Homo sapiens: one gene and its partners. The protein of the gene in region 1 interacts with the protein of each later gene in a biochemical or structural test. Each region holds a gene or a part of one and is shown in the gene's direction. Other genes may lie near its edges.

What was found.
Region 2: the proteins of UBE2G1 (region 1) and MARCHF6 form a complex in vitro, tested with the Homo sapiens proteins (one study listed by BioGRID).
Region 3: the proteins of UBE2G1 (region 1) and TRIM2 form a complex in vitro, tested with the Homo sapiens proteins (one study listed by BioGRID).

Annotation. Positions count from the first base shown.
Region 1 is NC_000017.11:4,298,442-4,309,560, reverse strand, and holds part of UBE2G1 (ubiquitin-conjugating enzyme E2 G1), read left to right. Parts: intron 1-2,437; coding exon 2,438-2,540; intron 2,541-11,119. UniProt on the Homo sapiens protein: Accepts ubiquitin from the E1 complex and catalyzes its covalent attachment to other proteins. In vitro catalyzes 'Lys-48'-, as well as 'Lys-63'-linked polyubiquitination. May be involved in degradation of muscle-specific proteins.
Region 2 is NC_000005.10:10,356,025-10,367,143, forward strand, and holds part of MARCHF6 (E3 ubiquitin-protein ligase MARCHF6), read left to right. Parts: intron 1-11,119. UniProt on the Homo sapiens protein: Endoplasmic reticulum membrane-associated E3 ubiquitin ligase that plays a critical role in mitigating endoplasmic reticulum stress, the regulation of cholesterol and lipid homeostasis, and ferroptosis.
Region 3 is NC_000004.12:153,268,629-153,279,747, forward strand, and holds part of TRIM2 (tripartite motif-containing protein 2), read left to right. Parts: intron 1-1,706; coding exon 1,707-1,891; intron 1,892-7,264; coding exon 7,265-7,502; coding exon of another isoform or gene 7,503-7,541; exon of another isoform or gene 7,542-7,640; intron 7,641-11,119. UniProt on the Homo sapiens protein: UBE2D1-dependent E3 ubiquitin-protein ligase that mediates the ubiquitination of NEFL and of phosphorylated BCL2L11. Plays a neuroprotective function. May play a role in neuronal rapid ischemic tolerance.

The DNA of each region.
Region 1 (11,119 bases):
TAGAATGTCTGCAACATAGTTGGCGCTCAGTACACATATGCGTGCATAAACAAAATAACAGTGAAAATGCTGTTCCCTTCTTAATGTGTTTGCACTTTCAATATCTTTAAAAAGTATTTTAGATTAGCCACTTTAAAGTAAAAGTACATTTCTTGTGTTTTGAAATACAGAGCTGATTTTAACTATTTGTAAAAGTCTAGTTTGCCTGTTATGCAAAAATGTTAGACTTATAAAAATCTCCCCTCACATTTCAAGAAAAGAAGCACTTCATGTTTAAACATAAATTTTTTATTTTTATTTTTGAGACGGAGTCTCGCATTGTCACCCAGGCTGGAATACAGTGGCATGGTCTTGGCTCACTGCAGCCTCTGCCTTCCAGTTCAAGTGATCCTCCTGTCTCAGCCTTCTGAGTAGCTGGGATTACAGATGTCCGCCTCCATGCCCGGCCAATTTTTGTATTTTTACTAAAGACAGGGTTTCACCATGTTGGCCAGGCTGGTCTTGAACTCCTGACCTCAAGTGATCCACCCATCTTGGCTTCCTGAAAGCGTTGAGATTACAGGTGTGAGCCACCACGCCCTGCCTAAATATAAATTTTCACTATTGGCTTTCTCCTATTTTGCTGGCATGTTGTTAAATCGTAGTTGTTGAAATAATACCATCTCTTGATTTCCCCAAAAATTAATATCTCCTCAGTTACCTAAACATTGGTTCAGTCCTTTGTAGCACTCTGAGTTATATTATACTGCCTTTCATCATTAGACAAAGCTGCCTGAGAATGATGGCAGGTAGTATACGAGAATTACACACCTGTTGAGACTCCCAGCAAGTCCTTTTCAAACCACTCTACTCCTGTGTGTTCTTTGTCCACACTTTCCAATTTGAGCCAATGAGTACTCAGTTCCACTGGCCGGTAAAATGTGATAATTGTGTGGGTGATTGATACATGCATTCACTATTGTGATTGTTGTTGTGTTGGTTCCTCTGGTGTATATCAGTACTTATTAAATTGTGTGTGTGTGTTTTTTTTCTTTTTGAGATGGAGTCTTGCTCTGTTACCCAGGCTGGAGTGCAATGGCGTGATCTTGGCTTGATGCAACATTTGCCTCCCGGGTTCAAGCAGTTCTCCTGCCTTAGCCTTCTGAGTAACTGGGATTACAGGCACACACCACCATGCCCAGCTAATTTATTTATTTATATATTTTTTGAGACAGAGTTTTGCCCTTGTTGCCCGGGCTGGAGTGCAATGGCGCGATCTTGGCTCACCACAACCTCTGCCTCCTGGGTTCAATCAGTTTTTCTGCCTCAGCCTCCCGAGTAACTGGGATTACAGGCATGTGCCACTACGCCCAGCTAATTTTGTATTTTTAATAGAGACGGCGTTTCTCCATGTTGGTCAGTCTGGTCTCAAACTCTCGACCTCAGGTGGTCCACCTGCCTCGGCCTCCCAAAGTGCTGGGATTACAGGTGTGAGCCACCACGCCCGGCCAAATTGTATAATTTAAGTATGTGCAGTTCACTGAATGTCAGTTATACCTCATTAAAGTTGTTTAAAAATTTCTCACATGATCTGCTCACCATCAGGAGGCCAGTACTTTATTAAGTCTGGTGTCTCTGGAAACATTCTGGGCTCTGTACCGCTGCTCACCTGCTCCTTAAGGTCCCTGTCTTGGCCTGTGTGCCCCCACCTTGCCAGTTCCTCGCCTCTCTTGTTTCCCACCCTGTCATCCTTTCTCCATGCCACAGCACTCTCTTTAGAGGAGGAGAACCTCACGATGCTGCAGCCATTCTGTATGCTCCAGGTGTTACTCTTAAGCTGCTCCTCTGTCCCAGAAGCTGTGGCTCTCAGAGGGTCGACATATACAGACAAGACATATGGGGCCCCTGCTCTCCTTGTGCTCAGAGATGGATGGGCACACAGGAGCACCCACTGTAGAAGCAGGTCCCCAAGACTACAGGGACAAGTCAAATAGGTGTACAAATGTTAGTATAAATGAAAGTTATTAAGCGCAGTACATTCCAATGAAAAGGTATGATTAGACACTCTGAAAGTATACCCTGAAGACAGCAGCATAAGAATTGCCAACATGATTTGATTTCCAGGGCTCCCTCTCAATGAGAATCTCTGGGGGACGGGCCTGGATATCTGCATTTTAACAAGCTTCCTTAAAAGACCACTGTAGGGCCACTTAGAATGACAAGAGCCTGGCTGGATACCAGTAGAAGTTGATCTTCTGGATAGTTTGCTTTACCCAGGGCTTTCTTACAGTATAGGCATGAAAATGTTTTGGCCATCAAGTAGCATTTTGCCTGGCAAGGTATATCTATTTAATGGTTTAAAACTTACATAAAACATGTACGCTCAAGTTCTGTAATTTATCTACTGGATGCAAATTATGTGCTTAAATGTATTGATTAAACTTTTCTTTTTCCACAGAACTCAACAAAAATCCAGTGGAAGGCTTTTCTGCAGGTTTAATAGATGACAATGATCTCTACCGATGGGAAGTCCTTATTATTGGCCCTCCAGATACACTTTAGTAAGTATAATGGAACTGACATCTTCAAAATGGAGCTCTTTTAATACACTGAATTAAAAACTATTTTGGCAGGCTGGGCACGGTGGCTCACACCTGTAATCCCAGCACTTTGGGAGGCCAAGGCGGGCCGATCATGAGGTCAGGAGTTCGAGACCAGCCTGGCCAATGTAGTGAAACCCCATCTCTACTAAAAATACAAAAATTAGCTGGGTGTGGTGGCATGCACCTGTAGTCCCAGCTACTCAGGAGGCTGAGGCAGGAGAATCACTTGAACTCAGGAGGCAGAGATTGCAGTGAGCTGAGACCACGCCATTGCACTCCAGCCTGGGTGACAGAGTGAGACTCCATCTCAAAACAAAACAAAGCAAAACCACAAATATTTTGGCAAACTGACATGAAATTATTTTTTAAGGAGCAGGAGAAATGGCTGTATTCAATATCCTTTGTACTGAATTTGATCATGGAAGAGTTTTTGTGTTTTGCTTGAAGCTCTAATGTCTAAGACCTATTGCTATTAAAAATAATAGTTTCAGGCCGGGCGCGGTGGCTCATGCCTGCAATCCCAGCACTTTAGGAGGCTGAGGTGGGTGGATCACCTGAGAGGTCAGGAGTTTGATACCAGCTTGGCCAACATGGTGAAACCCCATCTCTACTAAGAATACGAAAATTAGCTGGGCATGGTGGCATGCCTGTAATCCCAGCTACCCGGGAGGCTGAGGCAGGAGAATCACTTGAACTCAGGAGGCAGAAGAGTTATATAATTTTTGGACATTTTAATTGAGAATGTATTACACACATCAGTGTTTTAAGAAGGCTAAGGAGAACTTTCAAGATCGTCTCTTTTCATGGTTCTCTACTTGAGTCCCCACCGAATACTGGTTAGAATCTAGGTGTTCTTATCCCAAACTAAACTAATGGTCACTTTCTCCTAGTTTATTGAAAGTTATTGTTATGCTCTATGATAATCTATTAACTGACTATTAATTGTTAAACCAATGGCTTAAGGATAGACAACAATGTAGTGGTGTGAAAGAGCAGTAGAAGAAGAGAAATAGAGTTTAAAAATATTTCATGTCGTACATTTCTAGATGCAAAGACCACAGTCTTCTTTTCTGCTCTGAGTGTTTGCAGACTAACTTAAATTTACTAGTATGTATTGTTTTGTAAGATGCATCTGCTGGCTTGGTGCGTTGGCTCACGCCTGTAATCCCAGCACTTTGGGAGGCTGAGGCGTGTGGATCACCTGTGGTCAGGAGTTCAAGACCAGCCTGGCCAACATGGTGAAACCCTGTCTCTACTAAAAATACAAAAATTAGCTGGGCATGGTGGCGGGCGCCTGTAGTCCCAGCTGCTCAGGAGGCTGAGGCAGGAGAATCGCTTGAATCCGGGAGGTGGAGGTTGCAGTGAGCCAAAATTACGCTACTGCACTCCAGCCTGGTGACAGAGCGAGACTCCGTCTCAAAAAAGAAAACAAAACCGTCTCTGGTCTTTGGTGTACATTTTTAAAAGTGTTGGCTGTTGAATTGAGATGTGAATCACAGCAATATTTCTGGCAGCTCTGCTGGAGTGTGTATATGCTGCTGAGAATACTGGTGGTCACTTCTGGACTGTGCCTTCCTGAGATCACTAGCCTTTGCTCAGGAAAGAGAGAGCATATTCCTAGGGCAGGACCTGAGAAAGGCAAAGGAAGGTACAGGGGAATGAAGAAAGGTTTGTTAGAAGTAAGCCTTTTAGAATGCTACCAAGAACCATGTACTTCATAGAATGCTTAAAAAATATTTGTTGTCGGCCGGGCGTAGTGGCTCACGAGGCCGAGGTGGGCAGGATCACCTGAGGTCGAGAGTTGGAGACCAGCCTGACCAACATGGAGAAACCCTGTCTCTACTAAAAATACAAAAAATTTAGCCAGGTGAGGTGGCATATGCCTGTAATCCCAGCTACTCGGGAGGCTGAGGCAGGAGAATCGCTTGAATCCAGGAGGCAGAGGTTGCAGTGAGCCGGGATCGTGTCACCCACTCCAGCCTGGGCAACAAGAGCAGAACTCTATCTAAAAAAAAAAAAAAAAAAGTTCTTAAAAAACTTCTTAGCAGAAAGTAGTGAGGTTCTTGTAATTATTTCAGTGGAATGGAGAGAGTAGAGGCCATCTTGGAATTGTTTGAAGAGCACTATTGGAAGTGAATATATACACCTTACGTTTAAATAACTGCCTGTGAAGGGAAGTAGAGGCTTGTGCTGGGGGGAGGGGTGTTATAGGATTGAAAATAAATTAGTATAGGCTCAGATGGTACCCAGACCTAAGTGATTAATTCACCACTTTATAATTAGATAATAGAAATACTGTACCAAAATTCTGTAAAAGCTGCTGTGATTATCTCTCTGTGCCATCATTAGCCCTCATGTAGTCACTAGAGGGCGCTCCACTCTCTTTTCAGTCTATGTGATTGATAACCGGTACCGTTCAAGGATTACTTTGAGACTCCTATAGTTGCCACAAGTCTTAATTCAGTCATACTCATATTTATATAGCATTACATTTTTATTTTTATTAATGAGTCTTTCCAGTGCAGTAGTCCCTAAGGCCTTTCTATGAAATGTACATTCTGAAACTGGTGTGGTATACCAACTGTTTTCAGACTGATTATCAAACAGTATGGATAACCACTCATATCCACAGAAATTAAAATTTCAGGTAGAAGTGGCAATAGGTTTGTAGTACGGAAGTTTAGGGTGGATACAGTGGCTCACGTCTATAATCCCTACACTTTGGGAGGCCAAGGGTGGATCGCTTGAGCTCAGACGTTGGAGACCAGCTTCGGCTACATGGCAAAACCCTGTCTCTACAAAAAAAAATACAAAAATAAGTCAAGCATGGTGATGCATGCCTGCAGTCAGGAGGCTGAGCCCAGGAGGTGGAGGCTGCAGTGAGCCAAGATTACGCTACTGCACTCTAGCTTGGGCAACAGAGCTAGACCCTGTCTTAAACAAACAAACAAAACCAGAAAGTCTAAGAAACCTGGATATCACTGTATCATTATAACATTTTATAAATTATTAATGAATGATGACTGTATAACTTTTATCTCTCTTTTCCTTTCATCACCAGTGGCTGGTCTGTTCAAGGAGTATGTCTTATTTATTTATTTTGTTTTTAAGCACTGGCAATGATATGAAAAATCTGGAGAATCTTAAGATTATGTGTTTTGTAGTATTGCCTTGGGTAGATATAGAAAATGAAGAATCAGTTAACCAAAACTCTGAATTACATTCTTTTACAGTTGCAAAATTCTATTCCAGTTATAAATTATTTTCCAGTCCTGTGTGAGACATAGAGGCAGAAGCCATCTCTTCTGTAATGAAGTTCTGGAGGGAATGAACCTAGTGCCTACATTGCTTGGAAATGGAATGATCAGTGGTAATGCCATGCGGTTTATCACGTAGTGTTCAAGAACATGGACTTTGGGGACTGCCTTTGGTTAGCTCTCTAACTCTACCACTCTTCTTAGTTGAGTGACTTTGAACAATTACTTAAATTTGGTCTTAGCAGTTTCATTTCTAGGGTAAAAACCCTATGCTTAGGAAATGTTTCAAATGTTCCATGTTCTATTGCTTATAATAGCAAAAAAAAAATTATTTTTTCCCCTTTTGCAGTTTTATTATTTATTTTTGTAAATGTCAATTATAATTCGAAGGACACTTTGTAGTTACTAATTAGACTATATGAAAAACTGTACAGACTGTTTGTACTATAATTTGTGTCCCTAAGAGATTAGGGGACTCAGTAACAGAAAAATCAACTCAGAAGGGTCACTGCTCAGCAGTCCACATAACCACATAGTAGAGCCCAAGCTACTGGTTGTGAGTAGAAAGAGACTTCATACAAATATCTTCACATGTCTTCTAGCATTATGCCCCTACCAGGAAAGGGAATGTCTGTCACAATTTTTTTTTTTTCTGCTGTAAGATAAAGAAAAGGCTGTATCCCTTAGACACATACTTAATGAAGACAATCTCAAAAGAAGCTCCTGTGTTTTTCTGTTTTCACTGTTCTTTTCTGAAGTTCACCTGGATGTTCCAGAGCAGTTTTCTAAACCTTTCATTGTTGGTTGGCCTTTTGTAGAATTCTTCAGCAACACACAATACAGAAGACACAGGCTAAAATAGTTCTCACAAATACACTTTGAAATAGGTGTATTTGGATATAAATACAACTTGCCATTCCATTATTTTTTTTCTCATGACTAAACTCTAAATTTTTAAAAATGGAGATTTTCAAACCAGTGATGTGCAAAAGCCCATTCTCATGACACAGTCATTTAAACTTATTAAGTATGGGAAAATTTTATTTCTTCCCTTTGTCTTGTGGAATAATTTAGGTTCTCACCCTGGGCATGATTCACAAAATAGAGTAAGACCACAGATAAAAGTCACATAGAATCACAGGCAATGAAGAAAACTTCTAAAAACAAATATCCCCCAGTGTCCAGTATCATCCATCCCAGCAGTGATGGAAATGATGGCCACCCCAAGATTCTGAATGGAGTGCGTGAAGCCATATGCAGTTCCCAGTTGATGTTCAGGAACTACAGATGCCACTGTTGGCCAAAATGCACAGGCAAGCGATGAATAGGAGATTCCCAGAAGACACAGCAACCCAAGGGCTCCACATCATAAAGGCCAGCATCATGTGGGACACAAGAGTGGCTGCAACCACACGCAGAACCCAGATGCTGTTCTTCCCCGTGTCATCCACTGGGAGCCCAAATACTGGGGTGTGGGAGCTGATAACGACATATACAACACTGTTCATTGCACTTGCTGCCTGGAAAGAAAATCCAAATTTGTCTGTAAAGAAAACTTTCCCAAGTCCAATAAAAGGGAACATGGCAACACAATAGCAGACACAGATGATAAATATGAGCCACAGGGGTAAGGAGAAATCCTTTACATCAGTTAATGTAAAAACTTCCCCCCCCTTTTTTTGTTGTTGTTGTTCTTTATGAAGGATTCTCTCTGCTCTCGCATCTAAGTAAGCAAGAGCCAAGGAAGGCACAGATTAGTGAAAGAATACATTTTATACCCCCAATCTTAAGTGTGACCCCAGGGGTTGTGTGACCAGCAGAACCCCACGAAGCTTCAATCTTAGAATACAGCCAACTCACGAAGTTCATGTTTACCGTACTTCCAATTCTAGCCATGCTAAATTGTTGGAGTCCAGACACCAGGTTTAATTCTTTGTCTTTAAACCAGCTGACAGCATATGTCCTGGGCAACTGCTGAGCACTCCCCACCAATCCAAACACAAGTCTTTCAAATTCCATCAGCCAAAAAACATTAAATATTCCACCCAGAACAAAACAACCTGTCCAGTGCAAATAAAACAGCTAAAAGTAATTGTGCCCCATCATATTCCAAATACTCGGTCTTTTAAAAAGCCACCAAAGAAACACAAAACTACATTGGGCCAAGAATACCAGGCATATAGCAGCATGAATTTCATGGTGTTCACCTGCCTGTTCCGTTTATCCTGAGTCTGAAGGGCAGCAGGATTATTATAGCAAAAATAGCTGCTGAAGCCAAGGAAACACATCAATAACAGCATCAAAAGTCATAGCCAGGTGACTGGAGGCCACAGAAGGGCCAGCAGCACCCATGCTTTCTCATCCTTCTCCTCCATTGCGCCCGTGGGAGGCTGAGAGGCAAAAGGGGTGACAACTCCAGGACCTGGCAGAAAAGCAGTGCCCACGGAGCACAGCCAAGTCAGTGATCACATGACTATGTGATTCTGACTATCATAGAATAATAGTGAACTGTGGCGGATAGAATGAATGGACAAGAGACAGCTACAACAGGACTATAGATTAATAGAACAATGTTGAGCAAATTGCAGACGGCAGCATACAGCACATTATTTACATAAAATAAATATGGCAGTATGGTAGGATTTGATCCTTGTAAGATTTTTATAATTTAACTCAAAAACAGTAATGGAGGCCTCATGGAAAAAAATTGAACTAGGCCTGGGTTTTTAAACACTTTCAAATGTGAAACTGCTGGTTACATATCTCTCTCTCTCTTTTTTTTTTGTTTGAAAACAGAGTCTGACTCTGTTGCTCACTGCAACCTCCGCCGCCTGGGTTCAAGTGATTCTCCTACCTCAGCTTCCTGAGTAGCTGGGATTATGGGCACCTGTCACCATGCCTGGCTAATTTTTGTAGTTTTTAGTAGAGATGGGATTTCACCATCTCGGCCATGCTGGTCTTGAACTCCTGACCTCATGATCTACCCGCCTCAGCCTCCCAAAGTGCTGGGATTACAGGTGTGAGCCACCGTGCCCGGCCTACATACCTCTTTTTAATATCATGATAGTACTTATACTATAGCATCTGTGATGAAGATAATATGTAATGAAAGATATTTTGAATTAATTGGTGCCTTTTTAAATTTTATTTTATTTATTTATTTATTATTATTATTTTTGGAGACAGAGTCTTGCTTTGTGGCCCAGGCTGGAGTGCAGTGGCACAATCTTGGCTCATTGCAACCTCTGCCTCCCAGGCTCAAGCCATTCTCCTGCTTCAGCCTCCTGAGTAGATGGGATTACAGGCACCTGCCACCACGCCTGGCTAATTTTTGCATTTTTAGTAGAGACGGCGTTTCACCATATTGGTCAGGTTGTTTTCGAACTCCTGACCTCAAGTGATCCGCCCGCCTCAGCCTCCCAAAGTGCTGGGATTACAGGCGTGAGCCACCTTGCCTGGCCACAGTCACATCTTTCTATATTTGAAAAATAGTGGATATGTGACATGTTAATGTGTAGTCTACAGTGTTATTCTACTCTATGGGTTTTGGGCTTTCTCTTTGCTAACTTGGCTGCTCGGTAGAAGTTTGCACGCACAAGTTGGGTACTAGTTAGTTAAGCATCAAAAAAAAAAAGCAGGTAGGCCAGGTGCGGTGGCTCAGAAGGTCAGGAGTTCAAGACCAGCCTGGCCAACATAGTGAAACCCCGTCTCTACTAAAGATACAAAAATTAGCGGGACGTGGTGGTGTGCGCTTGTAATCCTAGGTACTTGGGAGGCTGAGGCAGGAGAATCTCTTCAACCCGGGAGGCAGAGCTTGCAGTGAGCCGAGATCACGCCACTGCACTCCAGCCTGGGCGACAGAGCAAGACTCCATCTCCAAAAAAAAAAAAAAAACTAAAAAAAGGAAAAGAGGGGAGGGGCAGGTAGAATTTCCACAGGTAAAATAGAAGAAGAGGGGTCCACAGATAGGAGAAAAACTCAGAAATGCTATGGTTGCTTCAGAGTGGGCAAGGCCATTTTCAGATAGAGTGAAAATTGTGTGCTTTAAATTTTTAGGGCTACTCTTTTAGTTGAATTTGGTTGACATTTTAGAGATTGAAAACAATTTAGAGGGTCTAAGTCAGTTTTTCATGATGAGGATTCCAGTCAGCTATTATGAAGCTTTTTAGTGAATGTAACCAATCAAAAGTAAGTGACGTGGGAAAGCTGACTTAATGTTGTCAAGGAATCAAGTGGCAAGTGGCTGCCAGTAGAATCAAGTGCAGGGGCTTTGTGGCAGTGGCTTTGATGTCCTTTTACATTGACTCTTTTTTTGTTGTTGTTGAGACAGAGTCTCACTCTGGCACCCACGCTGGAGTGCAGTGGCACAATCTTGGCTCACTGCACCCTCCACCTCCCAGGTTCCAACAATTCTCCTACCTCAGCCTCCCAAGTAGCTGGGATTACAGGTGCACGCCACCATGTTTGGCTGTTTTCTGTAATTGTGGCTTTCAAACCCATAATTAGAAATACTTTACATCATGACGCAGTGCATACATATGTATATATAGATTAGTGAATAAAACACATACATAGATTATATAACTGAAACTACTTGTGATAAACTCTGTTTTCTATTTTTGTTAACAAAAAAACTTTGATAGTGACTCATTAAATTGCTTTTGCAGCCCTGTTTGAAAAACTAGTCCATGTAATCAGTATATCCTAAGACCCATTTTGGCACTAACTTACACAGAGCAACAGGATCAGTAGATAAAGACTTAACTCTTTTTGGTGTAATGCACTCTTCACAACAGCTATTCCAGTCTCTATTCCCTCAAGCCCTCATGCTTCTTCCTTTCAATAGATAACCTCATCAGTTGTGAAAAGTAAGGCGCTATGGTGGGCCTTACTTCATTTCTACATTTCTTCGAATATCTCTTTTAAAGCGCTTGTTTTGTACAGTTTCCCCATCTAGTTACTATCTTCAACTGTTAAATTTTTTGTATAAATTGTCCTGTTTATTATGCTTAAGTACTTTACTACCCTGTTCTTTAACCCTTTACAGCTTTTTTTCCTATTGCTTTTTACTAAAAAAATTGTATTATCAAGGTCACTGACTTTATACTCTGAGTCCTGTGGCATTTCCTAATTATTCAGAAATGTTTGGTGTTAATGATCTGTCTCTTTTTTTAAACTTAATCTGCACCTTCCCCATGTCTTATGATCAGAAAAAGCAATAAAAATTCATACTTGCTTGTGAACAGTTCAAGCTATATTAAAAAGAGCAGAGAGTAAAAG
Region 2 (11,119 bases), on another chromosome or scaffold:
GCAAAATTCCAGTTTGGAAGTCTTCTGACATTTTTACAATTAAATTTAAGTTGAAATAACACTTAAAGGAAAAGGGAGGGTTATAGAGGATTAAAAATGATATAGCAAAGATGCCAAAAAACTAATAAAAAATGTTCTATTTGTGAAATCAGTTATTATAGGTTATTTCTTTAAAAAATGCGACTTAGGTTTTTTAAATCTGCTTAGAAATTTTTTGGTAGGAGATATTCAAAGTATGGCCAAACATAAAACTAAATTAAAAAAAAATCAGTATCACCTACTTTTGAAAACACTTATACTGTTGTGGTTCTGTTTTTTATTTATTTTATTTTATTTTATTTTATTTTATTTTATTTTATTTTATTTTATTTTATTTTATTTTATTTTCCGAGATGGAGTCTTGCCCTGTTGCCCAGGCTGAAGTGCAGTGGCATGATCTCTGCTCACTGCAACCTCCACCTCCCAGGTTCAAGCGATTCTCCTGTCTCAGCCTCCTGAGTAGCTGGGATTACAGGAGCGCGCCACCTCCCTCTGCTAATTTTTGTGTTTTTAGTAGAGATGGGGTTTCGCCATGTTGGCCAGACTGGTCTCAAACTCCTGACCTCAGGTGATCTGTCCGCCTCAACCTCCCAAAATGCTGGGATTACGAGCGTGAGCTACCGTTCCTGGCCGGTTCTCTGTCCTTTAAAAATATATTTTAATATTCTGAGCAAAGAGATTAAGAATGTTACAAACACATCAACCGTGCGTATAGTAAGTCTTCCCTTCCTTTTAAAAATAGCACATTGCTTGCCTCTGATGGTACCATATATGATAGTCTGATGCTCAGAATGTTATGCATTTGTAGTAATACTTAGTTCCGACATGGCTGTTTCATACTAATTGTTTGCTAGATTTTAAAGATCTCTAAAGTTTCTTCAGTATTAAATTAATTTTTGTAAAATCAACAGGTTTATAATCCATTCTCATAATACAGGGATGGATAAATCATTCTTACTGTGTATATGTTATTTGTATGAGTGCAGATGTGTTATGTCAACTGCTATCCATCCTGACATTTTTAAACTTCAGAGCTATAGGAGACCTTAGACATTTGCCCTCCTCATTTTATGGGTTAGGAGTCCGATCCTGTAATGCACTGAGATTTCTCAGTTTCAGAGAAAAGTCTATCCTTTGGTCAAGGATATACTTTTTTTTTTTTTTTTTTAAAGGAAAAGCAGTACAATATTGGAATAGATGTTGCAAGTGTTGATGTGCAGTTCTCAAAGATAATATTAAACATTTTGTCATAGAATGCCCACATTTCGGCTCAGTGATATAAAGCTGAGGTTTTTTTTTTTTTCTTTTCCATTTTGCTAAATTACTGCTTGTATTAGCACAACATAATACAAAGTCTTAGTAATTTTATTACAGAATACCAAAGCAGCTGTTCTTTATGCTTTACGGAACATATTCATTCGAAAAGTGTGAAGCTAAAGAGTATTATGGTTGATCATGTTCTATATCACTATGGCAAAAATTTGAGGTAACTTAAATTTGGAAGAAATGAGTTAAAAGGATAGAAAGTTGTCAGAATCAGACAGCTAGTTCCTCTCTTTCTAGACCCACACAGTCTTCTTTGTTTCCAGAGATGTCTGCTGCATGTTTCTTACCACGCATTACCTTTCACTGTTTTGGCATGCTTGTGACCAAGTGTACATGCATTTATTCGTTAAATGTTTACTGAGGACCTGTTATGAGCCAGGCACTATTCTATGCATTTGGGCTAGGCAAGGAACAATATAGAGAAAATCCTTTCTTTCATAGAGCTTACATTATAGTTATTAGCTTAAGACAAAATAAACATGTAAATTATATGGCATAACTAGAAGGTTATAAACGCTGTGGAGAACAGTGAATTGGGAGGGAATAAGAAGTGCCAGGATATGAGGGCATGGGTTGCTTTTTTTTTTTTTTTTTTTGAGACGGAGTCTTGCTCTGTCACCCAGGCTGGAGTGCAGTGGCGCGATCTTGGCTCACTAGGGGTCGCAGTTTTAAATATAGCAGTAAAGGAAGGCCTCACTGAGAAGGAGCAAAGGAGAAGGAGTTAGCCATGCAGATACTCTGGGCAGAGCATTCCAGGCAGAGGGAACATAGCCTATGTGAAGTGTCTAAGATGGGAGCATGCCTAGAGTGTTCAATAAATCACCAGGAGAGCAGTGTAGCTGTAACGGAGTAAAAGAGTTGGAGAAGAGTAAGTATAATATGAGGTCAGAAAGATATGGAGCCAATGGGGAGAGAGCATGTAGGACTTCATTGACTTTTATAGTGAGATAGGGAGCTATGGGAGGGTTTTGAGCTGACGTGAGACATAAATTGTCTTGATATGCAGCCAGCTTTCTGTATTTGTGGGTTTCGCATCTGTGGATTCATCCAATGTCAGATGGAAAATACTTGGAAAAAAATAGATGATTACCTCTGTACTGAACATGTACAGCCTTTTTTTCTTGTCATTATTCCTCAAACAATACAGTATGATGACTACATAACATTTATGTTATAATTATTCTAAGTAATCTAGAGATAATTTAAAGTACAGTTGACTCTTGAACAACATGGGTTTTTGAACTACATGGGTCCACTTACACATGGATTTTTTTCTTCAATAAATATATTGAAAAAAATTTTGGAGATTTGCAGCAATTTGAAAAAACTTGCAGATGAACTGTGTAGTCTAGAAATAGTGAGAAAGTTAAAAAGTTATGTCATTAATGCATAAAATATATGTAGATACTAGTCTTTTACTCACTATCATAAAATATATACAAATCTGTCATGAAATGTTAAAATTTATCAAAACTTACACACACAAACATGTAATGGAGACTGTACATGGCACCATTCACAGTTGAGAGATGTAAAGAAACTTAAAGATACAGTATTAAATCATAACTGCATGAAATTAACCGTAGTGCATACTGTGCTACTGTAATAATTTTGTGGCCACCTTCCGTTGCTGTTGTTGTGAGCTCAAGTGTTGCTGTTGTTGGAGCTCATCTCTCCAGTAAATTGTATATGGTAAAAAGTATCTCTCTGGATTCTCTTGTATTTTTCATTGCATTTAGTGCAGTACCCTAAACTTTGAATAACATGATGGGATCCATATGAGGTGCCACTAAGTGATGCTGGAAGTGCTCCAGGAAGCTGAAAAAAGGCATGACATTATGAAGAAAAAGTCGAATTGCTTCATATGTGCCATAGATTGAGGTTTGTAGCTGTGGTTGCTGGCCATTTCAGAATGATTTATCTTGTAAACAGACAGGTATCAATAAATATGGTACAGTGCTGTAAATGTAATTTCCTTCTGATTTTCTTAATTTTTTTCTCTAGCTTTATTGTAAAAATAAAGTATATAATATAGAATACAGTATATAATATTACAATACATATTGTAAGAATGCAGCATATAATACAGTACGCAATACATATAATACAGTTTATGCATTCATGGCATAATTTTATTTTTTTTGCTCCTTCTAAGCTACACAGTTCATCTTTTTTTAAATTGTTGTGAATTTCCAAAAAATTCTCCAATATATTTATTGAAGAAAGAAATCCGCGTATAAGTGGACCCATGTAGTTCAAACTGTGATGTTCACAGATCTGTACTTTAAATAATCTCCTGAGTACTCATAATACCTAGTATAATGTAATACAAAGGCTGGGTGCGGTGGCTCACGCCTGTAATCCCAGCACTTTCGGAGGCGGTGGCAGGCAGATCACCTGAGGTCAGGAGTTCGAGACCAGCCTGGACAACATGGCGAAACCCTGTCTCTACTAAAAATAGAAAAAATTAGCTGGATGTGGTGGCGGGTGCCTGTAATCCCAGCTCCTTGGGAGGCTGAGACAGGAGAATGGCGTGAACGTGGGAGGCGGAGCTTGCAGTCAGCCGAGATCGCGCCACTGCACTCCAGCCTGGGCAACAGAGCAAGACTCCGTCTCAAAAAAAAAGTAGTACAATATGTGTATTAATCTACTGTTTATGTTGTATTATGTTATGGGAAGGCTTCTGGTCACCAGTAGGCTGTTAGTAGTTTTCCATTAGTAGTTTTTCGGGAGTCAAAAGTTGTATGTGTGTGTGTTTTTTTTTTTTTTTTTTTTTTGAGACAGAGTTTTGCTCTTTTTGCCCAGGCTAGAGTACAGTGGCACCATCTCAGCTCATTGCAACCTCCGCCTCCCAGGTTCAAGCGATTCTCCTGCCTCAGCCTCCCGAGTAGCTGGGATTACAGGCATGCACCACCATGCCTGGCTAATTTTGTATTTTTCGTAGAGATGGGGTTTCATCATATTGGCTTGAACTCCTGACCTCAGGTGATCCATCTGCCTCAGCCTCCCAAAGTGCTGGGATTATAGGCGTGAGCCACCGCGCCCGGCTGTATGTGGATTTTTGATTGTGCAGGAGGTCGGTGCCCCTAACTCTTGTTCAGGGGACTCCTGTATATGGAAGGATGTGCATAGGTTACTTGGAAATACTATGCTGTTTTACATAAGGGACTTGAGCATCTGTGGATTTTGGCACCTGTGGACTTCCTGAAACCAATCCCCCAGGGTTACTGAGTCTATCTCTTTCCTGGTTAAGACAAGTTTTTGTTTGTCTTAAATTCAAATTTCTGGAAGCTACAATCTCACTGGCTCATCTTGGGTCAGTTGCTTATCCTTTTGATCCAGGTAGCTGGGTGGTGGTGGGAAAGGTAATGGAAGAATAAGAATCATGACTGGCTGTGTCCATTCTTGAGCTGGTAAGACAGTGCAAAAGAGATCTGCTATATTGCTCAATTAGAATACTTTTTAGACTGAAGCCCTGTGAGTGATTATTGCTGGGCTATCCTCTTCCAGATGCCTACTTCCCATTTCTTCCAGGCCAGGCTTACTTTAGTGGGTTTTACTTCTGTCCTGTAAGACTATGAAGATCACTTATTTTTAGTATAATACAGTTAGAACAGAAAGAGTTCTTGAAAAGTGAATAGGAAGTAAGAACCCCCCAAGGGAAAACTTAATAATTCAGACTATATTTTAGAATGCTGTTGCAGTAGGCTAGATGAGATATAGGAGTTACATTAAGGTAGAGGGAATGGAAAGAATGGAAAAGAAGAAATAGACCAAGGTAGAATTAATAGAACATAGTAATTGAAGAGGTAATATAAGGAGGAGGAGTTAAAAATGATTGATTTTTATATTATTTCAAATGGGAATGGAAAGAGATAAGTAGTTCAGTTTTAGATATTGTTTTAGTTTGCAGGGGCTGCTGTAACAAAGTACTACAGATTGGGTGCTTAAGAGAAATTTGTTTTCTCAACTCTGGAGGCTAGAAGTTTGAGATGAAGGTGTTGGTAGGCCTGGTTTCTTCTGAGGTCTCTCTCCTTGGCTTGTAGATGATTGTCTTCTGTGTCTTCATGTAGTCTTCTCTCTGTATGTCTTCATGTAGTTGTCCCTCTATGTCCTAATCTCTTCTTTTTTTAAAGACGCTAGTCATATTGGATTAGGGCCTACTCTAAGGACCTCATTTTAACTTAATTACCTCTTTAAAGATCCTGTCTCCAAATATAGTTACATTGTGTATACATGCAGGTTAGGGCTTCAACACGTGAATTACGGGGGGAGGGGCAGTGCAATTCAGCCCATGATAGACATGAATTCTTGAAGGCTTGGAAGACTGAAGCATTCCCTGTACACTTATTTTTTATAACTTAACTTCATTATAATATCTTTTTTTTTTTGAGACGGAGTTTAGCTCTTGTTGCCTAGGCTGCAGTGCAATGGCGCGATCTCGGCTCATGGCAACCTCCGCCTCCTGGATTCAAGGGATTCTCCTGCCTCAGCCTCCCGAGTAGCTGGGATTACAGGCATGCACCACCACACCTGGCTAATTTTGTATTTTTAGTAGAGATGGGGTTTCTCCATGTTGGTCAGGCTGGTCTTGAACTCCTGACCTCAGGTGATCCGCCCACCTCGGCCTCCCAAAGTGCTGGGATTACAGGTGTGAGCCACTGTGCCTGGCTGTAATACACTTTTTACTTTCCTGTCTCTCTCCTTCCCTTCTGTCACCTCTTAATGTATTCTGTAAAGATGGAATCAGGTTAATAAAGTATAATTTACACACAAATTTACCCTGTTTAGGGTGCAGTTCTGTTATAACACTTTTGAAATAGAATATTGGAGATTCCATGTCTTTTTTGATTACTTCCCCATTTACCAAATATTGGGTACATGTCTACTACGTATCTAGGACCTGTGCAACAATGTTTTCTGCATGTTTCATTTCTTCATTCCAAGTCCTTGAAAAGTGCCAAGAGGCATTTCTATTGAATGGAACAGTTTGAAGAGCATTGATGTAGCTAGAGTAGTGGTTTTCAAAGCTTTGTCCCAAGACCCCTTTACATTCTTAAAATTGAGGACCCAAAGGACTTTTGTTTATGTGGGTTTTATATGTAAAGATAGATATTTACCATATTAGAAATGAAGAATGAATACAAATTATTTAGAATATTTAAAAGTAACAATAAACTCAATATATGTTAATAAAAATAACGTTATCTGGATTATTATAAGACAATTGGATTCTCATCTCTCCCTTTGCAGTCACTTTGTTAAGTGTTTTGGTTAGTGTATATAAAAACTCGGCATCACACAGATTTATAGCTTGAAAAGGGATGAATATTTTCAGATGTTTGTATGTTCTTTGATACTATGTCAAAACTTGACAAGTGGTAGTTTCTTAACGTATCTGAAAACATGGCAGTCACCTTAAAAAATTAAATTAACTGTTAAATTAAAATCCATTTGTCTGGTAGTGTAGGATAGAGTCCAGAAATAGATCCACACATACATGGACAGTTGATTTTTGGACAGAAGTGCAAAAGCAATTGCATAAAATATAAAGGATATCGTTTTTCAACAAATGGCACTGGAATAGTTGAATAGCTGTAGGAAAAAAAAAAGAACTTTGAGCTATAGCTTGTACCATATACCAAAATTAACTCAAAGGGCTGTTAGACCTCAATGAAAAACCTAAAACTATGAAACTTCTAGGGGAAAATATAGGAGAAATTCTTCGGAATCTTGGGTTAGACCAAGATCTCTTAGGTATGACTCCAAAAGCATGATCCATAAAAGAAGTGGATAAATCAGATGGCATCAAAATTCAGAATTTCTTTCAAAATTAGAAAGACACTTAACAGAATGAAGACAGGATACAGAAGATGTATCTTATAAGGGGCTTGGAGTATATAAAAAATTCTCAGAACTCAGTAATAAGAAAACAATAACTCAGTTTTTAAAATGGTCCAAAGATTTGTATAGACACTTCACTAAAAAATACATGTACATGGCTATTAAGCATATGCAAATATGCTAAGCATCATTAGTCAAAACCATAATGAGACACCACTTCACACCTGCTAGGATGGCTATAATCAGAAAGAACAGGTAAGTGTTGGTGAGCATTGTAGAAAAATTGGAACCTTCATTTGTTACGCTAGGAATGTAAGATAGTGTGACTGATTTTGGTAATTCCTCAAAAAGATAAGCTGAGTAACCATATGACCCAGAAATTTCATATACCCAAGAGAATTCAAAAAATATATTCACACAAAAACCTGTATATGAGTTAGCAGTATTATTTATAATAGCCAAATAGAAACAACCCAGTGTCCATCAACTGATGAGTAGATAAATGTGATCTATTTGTAAAATAGAATATTACCCAGCAGTTCAAAGGAATTAAGTACTGATGCATGGTACAACTTGGATAAATCTCATAAACATTAGGATAAGTGAAATAAGCCAGTCACAAAAGAACATATTTTCTATGATCCTATTTGTGTGAAATGTCCAGAATAGGCAAATCTATATATAGAGAAATTAGTGGTTGTCTGGAACTGGGGAGAGCAGATGGAGTAGGAAGTATCCACTAATAGTTACAGGGTTTCCTTTTGGGATGATGATAATGTTCTAAAAGATTATGGTGATGGTTGCGTAACTGTAAATATACTTAAAACAATTGAAGTCTTTAAATTGGTGAACTTTATGACATATATCTGAATAAAATTGTTAATTAAAACTACTGTGAGATATCATTACATACCTATTAGTGTGGCTAAAATGGTAATAGAATGACTGACCGTACCAAGTGTTTGTAAGGAGGTAGAGCAGTTGGAATTTTCATATACTGCTGGTGGGAGTGTAAAGTGGTACACCACTTCTTCTGGGGAGCAGAAAGCAACCTTCCGGGTACAGGTGAGCCAAGGTTGATGGGCAGTTATGCAGAGGGAGTTGGGATATCACTGTGTGTACCTGTGCAAGTCCTGGAGTGTGTTGGGTCCTCATCAGCAGGGCTGTATGAAGGTGTTCATTAAAACAAAACTACTGATAGTGTGGCAGGAGCTAGAAAACACCCCTTTCTTCTTAGATATCCCTCCAGCACCCTCTACTGGCAAAGTTTAACTGCCCCTAGCCAAAAGAAAAGAAAAGAAAAGCTTAGCATCCCTATCACTGAACAGGGACTGAAAGGGAGAATTTGGAGTTGAGAAGGGGATACATGGATAACTAGCTCATTACTGCTGAAATTGTTGGAATCATTCATTGCCTGTGCTGCTGAAGCTTGATGTTGCCCACAGCTGTTGGGCAGAATCTCCACCATGACTTGCGTATCTGTTAGCAGGAGTCTGCAGTACCTGCCATTAGCTGCAACTGCTGGTTTTTAGAAACAAGTAGAAAATGGTTTCGCTGTTTCTCTGCTTCTTCTTTATTTTTATTTTTGAGATGGAGTTTCGCTCTTGTCGCCCAGGCTGGAGTGCAATGGTGCGATCTTGGCTGACTGCAACCTCTGCCACCCAGGTTCAAGCGATTCTCCTGCCTCAGCCTCCTGAGTAGCTGGGATTACAAGCACATGCCACCACGCCCGGCTAATTTTGTATTTTTAGTAGAGACGGGGTTTCACCATGTTGGCCAAGCTGGTCTTGAACTCCTGACCTCAGTTGATCTACCCACCTCAGCCTCCCAAAGTGCTGAGATTACAGGTGTGAGCCACTGCACCCAGCCTCCCTGCTTCTTCTGATCTCACAGAAGTGCTTCTCATTGACAGACTCTAACTTAAGCCTAGTTGGCAAGGAGGCCAGAAAGTGCAGTTTTCAGGCTTCCAGGAGCAACAGTACAGGTGAATTTTTAATTTAGTAACGATAGTAATCTGGTGAGCTAAAATAAGTAAACTTTGGGGTACATAGAGAATTGGAATTATTATTATTATTATTATTTTTGAGACAGAGTTTCGCTCTTGTTGCCCAGGCTGGAGTACAATGGCACGATCTTGGCTCACCGCAACCTCCGCCTCCCGGGTTCAAGCGATTCTCCTGCCTCAGCCTCCCGAGTAGCTGGGATTACAGGCATATGCCACCACACCTGGCTAATTTTGTATTTTTAGTAGAGGTGGGGTTTCTCCATGTTGGTCAGGTTGGTCATGAACTGCCGACCTCAGGTGATCCGCCCACCTCAGCCTCCTGGGATTACAGGCGTGAGCCACTGCACCTGGCCGAGAATTGGAATTTTTAAACTGTGTTTGCAAGGCCTAATTCCCAAACCCACATAGTTTGTGTATGGGTATACGCTCACCCTCAAAAAGGAAATATTTTTTGTAAAATTTGAGCAGTTAAACATTTTTTTCTGCCTGTAATTGTAAAAGTAGCAATTAAACACTATCTACTTGGGGACGAGAAAGGAAGAAAAATTACCCATGTTCTCGTCTGACCAATTACAGTGGCTGTCTTTTTTTTGCATTTTCTTCTTTAGGCTATGGTGTTTTTACCTAGTTGGAAGTAAGGGAGTGTGGTCATTTAAAAATGTTATATCTCTTTCCATATTAGCAAATAGTTATATATACATATATATACTTTTTTTTTGTTTTTTGGTCTGTTGCCCAGGCTGGAATGCAGTCACGCAATTTCGGTTCACTGCAACCTCCGCCTCCTGGGTTGAAATGATTCTTGTACCTCAGCCTCCTGAGTAGCTGGGATTATAGGCGTGTGCTGCCATACCTGGCTAGTTTTTGTATTTTTAGTAGAGATGGGTTTCGCCATGTTGGCCAGGCTGGTTTCGAACTTCTGGACTCAAGTGATCCATCTTGCCAAAGTGCTGGGATTACAGGCATGAGCCACTGCGCCCAGCCTTGTATTTGCTATTTTTAAGGGACTGTATACATTCCATATAGTGAATGTGCACCATTTATATAGCCGCTTCCCTATTTTGGGCTATATAGGTTATCTGCAGACATTTTGAGTAATATTTTTAATATATTTTCAAAATTGTCTACTATAATTGTAGCTACTAATTGTAAAAATTTTATTGATAATTACATATTAAACATTCCTTGTTTACTTCAGCCAGATGAACAAGGTCAACATTAACAGTTACATGTGGCATAGTGCCACGGTTATTACTTGAGACTGTCACTATGACAGTTACTGCTGTTACTACTTGAGACCGTCATTATGAGACTGAGTGAAGGGGGACAAATGTAGAAATGAAAAATTAAGACAAAAGAAACTTTTAAAGGAAGAAAAAAGGGGAAGAAAAAGAGGGCTCCCTGCTTCTAGGGAGCAAAGGCAGCAGCCTAGCTTCCACAGCCCTTAGAATTTATTGGGTAGAAAGAGCAGGGGGGAGGTGATAATGACTGGTCAGCTGCTTAATTGATCACACGTTCATATTATTACGAACAGGCTTCAGATGTACCTAATCACAAGAAACTGAGCTTGGGGCGTGACTGCCTTCAGCATTCCTTCTGGGTGGCATAGGCAGTTTGTCAGTTTGCCAACATTCTGCGTTTATGAGAACAGTTTGCTGTTCACTCTTATAGCCTCCAGTGGTATACTGAGTTGATCACGACCCTCAGTCTTTCGGCCTCCAACAGTTACAAATCATGTTGATGGCATATCCCTTGATATGATATGATATGATATAAGATGCCACTTCATGTGATTTTTTTCCTTCCCAAAACCCATAGCCCCAGTCTATTCATGAATCATGCAATTTCCAGTAAACAGACATTCTACAGTGTACCTGACCAGTACTCCTTAAAATTGTCAAGGTC
Region 3 (11,119 bases), on another chromosome or scaffold:
TGAAGAGGTAAATTTTAGCTCAGCCTTGGTTTATGCCTTCGGTGTAGAAGCCAGGAATTCTTTAAGGTGGTAAAAGGAGCTGTGTTTTGTGTTGTAACTTTTTCCTCTCTTGTGCTCTCAAACTCTTTGCTGTCTTCTCTTTCTGTGTTGCCCTCTTCTAATTCTCCTTTCCTGGCATGATCCCTAACATTTTGAAACCTTCTCTGAATTAATTCACTTCACCAGGTCTTTCAAATGCCCAGACATGAATACCAACAGATATTTCTTTTAAATTATAGGGAATACCTCTAGCCTTTGTCCCTACCCCATAGCAAATATATTTTAGTTTCAAATCTATAAACCTTTAGTCCTGAAGAAAACACTCTGAACCATATACAAAATCTTTAATTAAAATTCTAATTTTCACCCCCATGCATATTAATAGCATGTAGGGGAGGAAAAACTTTTCTTCTGCCCTCCTAGAGTATGTGCCTAGGGTCTATAAATTAAAGTGACAAAAGACAGATTAACGGGAGAAAAAGGCATACACTTTTTTTGATACTATTTTTAATTTTACATTATCAAGGGCTTCACAACCTCCTCTTTGGGTTTTATATACCATTTTGACAAAGGACAATATATTGCGGAGAACTGCCTAGACAAAAGAAAGAGGGGTTTGGACTCCTGGGGCAGTAAATTGTAGGAAATGTATGGTAGATAAGGTTTGTTTAGTAAGATCATTTTGCAAGATCATCTCCTTGCAGTCTTCAGTGTTTAAGAGACTTCTCTTCCTGGCTCTGGAGAGAGAGGCACCTTTACAAATGGAAATTTCCTTTACAAAAGAGAAATTTATGCTCTGCTTTTAGGCAGATGGGGAAGGGCAGAGAGGTCCTTTTCTGTCTGTTCTTTCTATATAGCTTTCAGCTCAAAATAATCCTTATATCAAAGTGACATATTTTGATGTGACACAGTCCAACCTCTTCAACTACGATAGTTGGAAAAACATATTCAATTTCAATAAGAATATGAAAGGTAAATATATGTTTAAATATAGTCATGGCTAAAGGCATAAGCAGACATAGCTATATAAAGTATTTATCCCCTTAGTTACCACTGCTTTGAAGCCCAGCGAGCATACCTCTTTGTACAACATGCCCTCTTTTAATTTGTTTTGTTTGCCTGGCGAACATGTGAGGATTTTATTGATTTACAAAATAAACAACAGGGAGCTGACTGTACTTGTACAGCAATAAGGGTTGGCTTATTGGTCATTTTGAGGTCACTGGCATTGACTTCTACCTTTATTTATTTATTTTTTATTTTATTTTTTATTTTTTTGAGATGGAGTCTCACTGCACTCACCCAGGCTGGAGTGCAGTGGCGCGATCTCAGCTCACTGCAACCTCTGCCTCCTGGGTTCAGGTGATTCTCCTGCCTCAGCCTCCTGAGTAGCTGAGGCAACAGGCGTGTGCCACCACACCCGGCTAATTTTTTGTATTTTTAGTAGAGACGGGGTTTCACTGTGTTAGCCAGGAGGGTCTCGATCTCTTGACCTCATGATCCGCCCACCTCGGCCTCCCAAAGTGCTGGGATTACAGGCATGAGCCACCACACCTGGCCGACTTCTACCTTTACTTATAGCACAATGCTTATGGTGAAAGAGCCAGTGATTGACTTGTACCTACAGATCATTATATGTTTTTCTGTTTTGATTTTCTGTCTGACAGCAGCAGCGTGCAGGGTCAAAGACAGCCGGCCCCCCATGTCAGTGGTCTAGGATGGCCAGTGAAGGCACCAACATCCCAAGTCCTGTGGTGCGCCAGATTGACAAGCAGTTTCTGATTTGCAGTATATGCCTGGAACGGTACAAGAATCCCAAGGTTCTCCCCTGTCTGCACACTTTCTGCGAGAGGTAAGCCTCCTTTGTGCTTGGAGAAGGGAGTTTCGCAGGCTGACCTCCTACAACCTACTGCAGGATTCTTTCCCAGAATTCTACAGTTACCTTTGAGAGAAAACTAATCTCTTGTGCTTCTGCCAGACATTGAAAAACAGAATCATGAGTTGCAAATAATTTACTTTATTTCAAACCATTATAAGCAAGAGAAAGCAATCCAGTAACTACTGATTCGTTTACACAAGAGATGGAGCATTAAATAAGAATGTTAAGTTGAAAAATCTTTTAAAACTTCCCTTTGTTCTTTGTGAAACAATTTTTGTCCACAGCAGATCCCTACAGAGGGTCTTTCAGAGTCAATTAAAAAAATCTATCATTTCCTCCCATATAACAAATCAGGTAAAACATCTGCATACATGAGTTGTTACTTCAAAAGGTATAGCTTCTTTTTCAAAGATTCTTCAGACACATACTAATGTCACATTTGAATGCTATGATGTTTTAGATAAAGAAAAAATATATATTAAATAAATTACCTGACTATGTAATTTGCTGTATGTGAAAACAGACTTCCTTATTTATCTTCTTCATAGAGTATTTGTTTTTGGAGAGGGGCGTTAATCAGTTATCAAAATATACTTTTACCCCATTGTTTAACTTACCATGTAAGCAATTAAGCATAAGTTTGTTAGTAATTAGTTTATCTTACTTATAAATATTTCCCTAGTAAAGTTATGTATCTTTCTTAAAAATAAATATGGTAATTGTGTTTTATAGCATTTTGTTAAGTACATTTTTATCATTATTTAATATACATACTTAAAATGCTTTACTTCCTGTGATAGAACTGGAAATCAGTATTTCAAATGGCTTCAAATCTATGCTGATTACACAAATATCTGATTTAACATGTCTTTATTATCTGATTGACCATTTTTTGAGTTGATTTACTTTGCAAGGTTCAATTGCAAAAGAATAACCATATCCTTCATGGTGGTGATGGATAGAAGGAGAAGGTAGATTTGTTACTAGTAGTTGTGGCTTTTTTGTTTGTTTTGGGTTGTTGTGGGGTTTTGTGTGTGTGCGTGTGCTTGTGTATATGGGTTTTGGTTTGTTTTAGTGGTGGTATATAGGGCACTTTTTATTTTATTCATTTTATACTTTGGCTTAAGTGCTTGGTAATTCATATTACAAAATAATTAGAGTGTGATTCCTCCATCCCCTTAATGGGTGCACCTAAAACATGAATACCAGCTAATAGTCCATGTGTCCCTGGGCACACATGGGAAGATCGTTACCTGATGTGCAGCAGTCGGCATAGCTTGGCTGATACTCTCTATAGAAGTGCATTCAGAGCCACTCAGTCTGAACTTGGCAGAATTGCCCCATATCCCAGTATTCAGTGTCCAGCCTATCTATTGTTTGGGTCCTACTTCCTCACTCTGACAGGTGAGAAGCAACACTCTGGCTGCCCTAGGTCTGCCCCTGCTATCTTCTTTGGGGATCTAGCCCAACCCACTTCCACTCCCCACCCAATAGCTGGTGGTAGAGATTTGTGAGATTCTGCTACAGCAAGTCCTTACACAATGCTCTGTGTTAAAATTGTTCCAGCCTCATGCATGTTGAGATGATTTCCTCTTCTTTTTTTATTTTATTTTTAATTTTGAGATGGAGTCGCACTCTGTTGCCCAGGCTGGAGTGCAGTGGCGCAAACTCAGCTCACTGCAAGCTCTGCCTCCCGGATTCACGCCATTCTCCTGCCTCAGCCTCCTGAGTAGCTAGGACTACAGGTGCCTGCCACCACGCCCAGCTAATTTTTTGTATTTTTAGTAGAGACGAGGTTTCACTGTGTTAGCCAGAATGGTCTTGATCTCCTGACCTCATGATCTGCCCAGCTCGGCCTCCCAAAGTGCTGGGATTACAGGCGTGAGCCACTGCGCCTGGCCAGATTTCCTCTTCTTTTATTTTTTATTTTATTAATTATTTATTAATTTATTTATTTTGAGACAGGATCTCACTCTGTCACCCAGTCTAGAGTGCAGTGGCACAATCACAGTTCACTGCAGCCTCAATTTCCCAGGCTCCAGAGATCTTCCCACCTCAACTTCTTGAGTAGTTGGGACCACAGGTGCACACCACCATGCCTGACTATAGAGACAGGGTTTCTCCATGTTGCCCAGGCTGGTCTCAAACTCCTGAGCGCAAGCAATCCAACTACCTTGGCCTCCCAAAGTGTTGGGCTTACAGGCGTGAGCCACTGCGTCCAGCCGAGAAGATTTCTGTTTGAAGGTGTTGAAGGTGCTGGCAACTTTCCTTAAAATGGGGTTTTTTGTTTGTTTGTTTGTTTGTTTGTTTTTGAGACGGAGTCTTGCTCTGTCACCAGGCTGGAGTGCAGTGGCGCTATCTCGGCTCACCGCAACTTCCGCCTCCTGGGTTAAGTGATTCTCCTGCCTCAGCCTCCCGAGTAGCTGGGACTACAGGCATGCGCCACTATGCCCAGCTAATTTTTGTATTTTTAGTAGAGACGGGGTTTCGCCATGTTGGCCAGGATGGTCTCGATCTCTTGACCTCGTGATCTGCCCATGTCGGCCTCCCAAAGAGCAGGGATTACAGGCATGAGTCACTGCGCCCGGTGGGGAAATTTTTGTTTATGCAGAGACAAAACTTTACAGCTTGTCTCACTGTCAGGAGAGTGAGCTCTAGGACCCCCATGTTCAGCCTCTGCTGGACATTCATACTGGCTACTCAGTGAGCACCTTACAGTCACTCTTTTTTTTTTTTTTTTTTTTTTTGAGACAGAGTCTCGCTCTGCCGCCCGGGCTGGAGTGCCGTGGCGCGATCTCGGCTCACTGCAAGCTCCACCTCCCGGGTTCACGCCATTCTCCTGCCTCAGCCTCCCGAGTAGCTGGGACTACAGGCGCCCGCCACCACGCCCGGCTAATTTTTTTTTTTTTTTTTTTTTTTTGTATTTTTAGTAGAAACGGGGTTTCACCGTGTTAGCCAGGATGGTCTCGATCTCCTGCCCTCGTGATCCACCCGCCTTGGCCTCCCAGAGTGCTGGCATTACAGGCGTGAGCCACCACGCCCAGCCCTTACAGTCACTCTTATCCCACATCTTCCAAAACAGCATCAAAAGGCTTGAAGGAGAGCAAAGCCAGACATAGCTGCTGGCCCCTTGGAACTCACAGCCTAGTGGAGGAGCCAGTCACTAACCCCCTAATTGCTCAGACTAATGTGAAATTAAACCAGTGACAAGTGCTGTACACCAGAAGTATACAGGAAACAATATAATAGAGGAATTTGCCCTAATCTGGGAAGGCTTCCTTGCAGAAGTGATGATTACGCAGAAACCCCAATGATGAGTAAAAATTAACTAAACAAAGGGGAGTGAATAGAATTTCAGGTATGTGCAAAGGTGCTATAGTGGGAGGTTGCTATAGTGAGTGAGAGGTGCTACAGTGAGAGGGTTATTCAACACTGAGGAAGAACTTAAATAAGTCCACTGTGGCTGGTATGCAGCAAATGAGGGGAAGAGACAGAAAGTATGTAGGTGCTAGGCCATATGAGATGTGTAATCCATGTTGCCATATATGGATTTTTGTCTTTGTTGTAAGAGCAGTGGAAGTGGAAACCATGGCATGGCTTTCATCTCAGATGGTGTGGGAGGGAGATTTAAATGGCTCTCTTTGAGTTTTGAGAAGGTCACTCTGGTTGCAATGTGGATAATTGTTAGAGGGTACAAGGATGGTTATATAGCAGGGCATGAAGAGAACTGGAGAGGTTAGAAAGATATGTAGGCATTTGGACATGCTTTGGTGATGGGTTGGATATGGAAAATGAAGGACAGTAAGGGAGTTACTGTTTTAAGAATGACTCCTAGTTTCTGGTTTGTTTAAATAAATGGATGGAGGTGCTATTCATCAGGAATGGGAGAGGATACAGTCTGGGGTTCAGATAATGGGTTTGGTTTTGTTCATGTTGAGTTTTAGGACCTGCAAGACATCTAAGAAAAGATGTCAACAGGTCAGTTAATGAGGCTCAAAGGAGATGTCTGTGGGAAGAAATATAATTTTGGGAGCCTGATGCTTGTAGCCACACCTGTGATATGAATATAATATTCCAGAAAGAGAAGAGGTCTCATGATGAATGGAACCTTGATTAACTCAAAACTGTATTGACTCAGAAAAGACAGAGCAGACAGGAGAACCATGTGAGTGTGGTGTCATAAAGTCAAGGGAAGAGAAATTTTTCAATAAAAAGGAAGGTGAGCAGAGCAATAATCAAGCTTAATGATACTTCCCAGAAGTCTAGTAAGATAAAATTGAAAAACATCTGCTGGATTCAGACGTCGTTAATGACCTTAGCAAAAGCTGTTTCATGTCTGGTATTGGTTCAGGGCTAGCTACCTCTGTGACATAGACAAGATCAGTGAATGTCTCTGATGTCAGGTCTATTCATCTGCAAAATAAGGGGAATGGGGCTAGGTTGGTGTGTTTTGAATTGTTTGGCTAGGTACTGGAAAAAATTGTATAGTCTAATTATTGAGAGCTTAGATTATGGTGCCAAACTGCCTGTGTTTGAATTTGTACTTTGTACTCTGCTCCTGACCAGCTAAGTATCTTGGACAAGTACGCTGGCCTGTCTCTGTCTGTTGCATCACGTGTCTCAAGGAATCATAACAGTACCTATCTCATAGGCTCATTGGAAGTACTTTGAATTCAATGAGCAGCATATGTGTGAGTCATTATTAGTGACACACTTCTTTAACTAAATGAGTTAAGTTGATACCTGTTGAGTAGAGACAAGGAGAAGAGATGGTGTGGCTCTGACTCTGGGTGTCCCATTCTTGCTTCAAGCAAATATTTCCACTTTGATGTGTTTTTTATATCTCATTATGATTTTGTACGTAAGAAGAATTTTATTGCTAACAAAAATATTTGATGTGTTTCTTTCAATTTCAAAGTCCACACATTTATGAGCCCACTGCTAGATATTGTGGGCCAGTGCTTCTCAAACTTTAACATGTATGCAAATCACATGGGGAGCTGACTCAGCAGGTGTTCGATAGGGTCTAAGATTCTGCATTTCTACCAAATGCACCCCCCAGGGAGGCTGACGCTGCTCATCCATGGACCACACTTTGTGTGCCAAGGCACTAGAAAACACTACAAAAGTCAATGACATTTTTTATTTCCTTGAGCATAATCATTTGCCTCATTAGTGTGAGTACAGCTTACCTGTTGGTTTCTGAAATATTATTTTCCTAGTAAAGGAGACTGGGATGGGAGTTTCTGCCAAATACCTTGTGTAGTCACTGAGAACATGTATGGTACCTGTGAGAAGTGGAGGTTCTGCACTGTGCTAAGCTCTCCACCTCTGCTTCTGCAACAGGTGCCTGCAGAACTACATTCCTGCCCACAGTTTAACCCTCTCCTGCCCAGTGTGCCGCCAGACCTCCATCCTGCCCGAGAAAGGGGTGGCCGCGCTCCAGAACAATTTCTTCATCACAAACCTGATGGACGTGCTGCAGCGAACTCCAGGCAGCAACGCTGAGGAGTCTTCCATCCTGGAGACAGTCACTGCTGTGGCTGCGGGAAAGCCTCTCTCTTGCCCAAACCACGATGGGAATGTAAGTGGCTGGGATGGCAGATACTGCCCGGGAGCATGACTACTGTGGCCTTGGGGAGGCTTTGGGTACATCAGAGATTACAGATTGAAACAGAACTCCATGTGGAAAAATCAGTAATTAAAAAAGATTTTTACCAGCCCTCAGACTACCTGCTCACTTTCTTTGACCAGAACTATTTAAATAACGAAATCAATCTCCACTGTGTCTCCTTCACACATATTGTTGGTATCCCCAGGACAGCAAACCAGTAGCTATTTGCAAGCTGACCTACATAAACATCTGTGTAATAAATTTATGGATACGGATTTAACAATGGATAAGTTCTGTAAGTTGAGAATGATTATTAAAATGTTAATTAGAGTTCTTTATTTTTCTTGGGAGGGAAATTTTCTCATGCTACATTAGACCTTATTCCTTATTAATAGATAGAATTTGAAGCTATGTGAATCCCTGATAGTAGATTATAGATTATGAATTCCAAACATATTTCTTGCTACTAGTGAGTACAATAACTGTTAGAAGCTCAGGAGGACCTGTGGGTACCATCAAGTAACTGATTCACAATAGCTATGTAACCTGAAGAGGCAGCATTGTGTAGCGTCTAAGGACATTGGCTTTGGAGTCAGGCTGCCTGATTCAAATCCTGCTCTTAAACTTATTCCCTGTGCCAGCTTTGGTAAGTTTATTAAACTCTCTGCGTCTCATTTCTTTATCAGTTAAAAAAAAGTAATAATAGTATTTACCATATAGAATATTGGAAGAATTAAATGTTCAAGTCATGTAAATCATATAGTAGGATCTTGATAAATGTCAGCTTTAACATTTTTTCATTAATTACTTTATATTCATCTCATTTGTATATTGGTCACTTCAAAAGTATTTGAAACTGCTTAAAACAAAAGGCCCAGGTATAACAAAACCACTAAGACAAGCAAGCAATCATTAGAGCAAAGCAATTCTTATTAGCCACACTACTGTTTGTTTACCTCATCTCCCAGCATTCTCTCTGCACACTGTGCTGGAGCCTCACCAGCCTCCTAGAACCTGCCAAATGGTTTCCCTCCTCGGGGCCTGGCTGTTCTGTTCCTTCTGCCTGGGTTGCTCTTTGTTTCCTCTTTATGTGGCGAGCTTATTCTCTTCCTTGAAGTCTCACTGCAAATTTCTCCTGCACACAGCAGTCTTCTCCACCTGTACCGTCTAACACAGGTTGCCTCTTACAGCTGGTTACCCTCCATCATGTCCCTGCTTTCTTTCCTCCCTGGTGCTCACTGTGGTCTGCTTGCCATCAGCTGTGTATTTGTGTACTTATTAGTCCTGGCTTTCCCTCTAGAATGTGAGCTCTGGGAGGGCAAGGACCTGTCATTAGACCCCTAGCACTGAGGGCAGTGTCTTATACATAGAAGTCAATAAATATTTGTTGAACAAATTTGCCAGACACCGTATTTGGCTCCTTAAACCCCCCTCTGCAAAGTAGTTGTTGGTTACTTTCACTTTATAAGATGAAGAAACTGAGGCTGAAACAGTTTAAGTCACAAAGCTTGCTGGGCACATTGTAAAAGCTAGCCCTGGAAGAAATAGCATCCTGAGCTTTCTGGTAGCCAAAACAAGAGAAGGACACCATGGCTTACACATCTGTAATAATTTAATTGAAAGCACACCAGGCTATTAATAGCTATCAGTTTTCCATGCATTTTATGCCAAGGGAAATTGATCATCTAAATTTTGTAAAAAGAACTTTTAAATGCTGCTTTTGAAAGCAGGTTGAGTATTTTCCTCATGACCACTTCTCACACTGGTGCTTAGTGAATGCTGAGGCTGTCTATGCCTGGAGCTTGCACTCTAAATACTAGTTATGGGAAGGTATTTCTATCAGGTGTAAGAGTGCCCCTTAAAATGAGGCTCTCTGGAGACGTGACTTGATAGAGGAGTAAAGTCTTAGAAACATTAGGTTGTTTTATTTTTTATGGGTTTTTTAGTTTTTGTTTTTGTTTCTGAGACAGAGTCTCAATCTGTCATCCAGGCTGGAGTGCAGTGGCACGATCATGGCTCACTGAAGCCTCGACCTCCTGGCTTAAGCGATCTTTCCACCTCAGTCCTGTCCTCTGCCCCAGTATCTGGGACTACAGGTGCATGCCACCACGCCCAGCTAATTTTTGTATTTTCTGTAGAGACAGGGTCTCACTATGTTGCCAAGACTGGTCTCAAACTCCTGGTCCCAAGTGATTCACCTGCCTTGGCCTCCCAAAGTGCTGAAATTACAGGTATGCGCCACTGTGCCCAGCCAAGCTAATATTTCTAACTGTCATTATTTCTCATTCTACATGACAGCCCCTTCATATCCCAAATTTACACCAGTGTCTATAGTAGGTCTCCTAATGTTTCTAAGGGCCAGACATGGTGGCTCATGCCTGTAATCCCAGCACTTTGGGAGGCTGAGGCAAGCCAATCGCTTGAGCCCAGGAGTTTGAGACCTGACTGGGCAACATGGCGAAATCCCACCTCTACCAAAAATACAAAAATCAGCTGGGCATGATGGGGCTGCACCTGTAGTCCCAGCTGTTCAGAGGCTGAGGTAGGAGGATCCTGTGGGTCCAGACATTGAGGCTTCAGTGAGCCATGATTGCGCCTCTGCGCTCCAACCCAGGTGACAGAGCAAGACTCTATCTCAAAAAAAAAAAAAAAAATTAAGAAAAAAAAAATAAATGTTACCTCCATAAGTAAAGTGAGAATGTCATGAAATTCAGGCAACAGCTTATAGCTCAAGGAAGCGGCTAGAACATGGAGACAGCGGAGTTGAGGGTGGGACACAGGTGGGCCTGAAAAGATAGATGTGGAGAGATTGGGATGAGCTGTGAATATCATTAAGAACATGTTTGACGTCAATTTCTTAAATTGCAAAAGCATCAAAGCCTTCTGAACAGGAGATAGGTATTTTATTGACATTTTGGAGGAATGGGGTGGCAGACACTAAAGGCTGGGAAACCAATTATGAGTTTACTGAATTGTCCAAATGAGAGATAAGAGATGGAACTAGAATGGCATCAATGGGCCTGGGGAAGACAGCGTGAATTTCAGAGAAAAGAGTACTCTTTGACTCAACAATCTGCCTCCCACAAATAAAAAGGCCTGTGCTAAAGTCTGTTAAGCTAAGCTATTAGATCGTGAGAACTTCAGCAACTAAAATTAATCTTATACTAGGTCACAAAGAAAATACCACTATATTTTCCCATTGTGTAAAGCAAGTTCCTGCCCTACAATGCACTAAAATTACATTAGTAACACATGTTTATGGGGAAAAAACAAATCTCCTTTAAAAGTTAATAATTATTTAATCAATAGAAAATAATAGAAATAATAGAAAATTGGACTATTTACAAAGTATTGGAAGTGGAAACTTTTTATATCCAATGTGTAGGGTCAAATCTCTACCCAGGAAATTTTATAGGTTTAAGTATTTTCCTTTATTTAAAAAGAATTCCAGCCTGGGCAACATAGTGAGTCCTCATCTCTACAAAAAAATCAAAACATGAGGCCGAGCACAGTGGCTCATACCTATAATCTCAGCACTTTGGGAGGCCGAGACAGGTGGATCACCTGAGGTCAGGAGTTCGAGACCA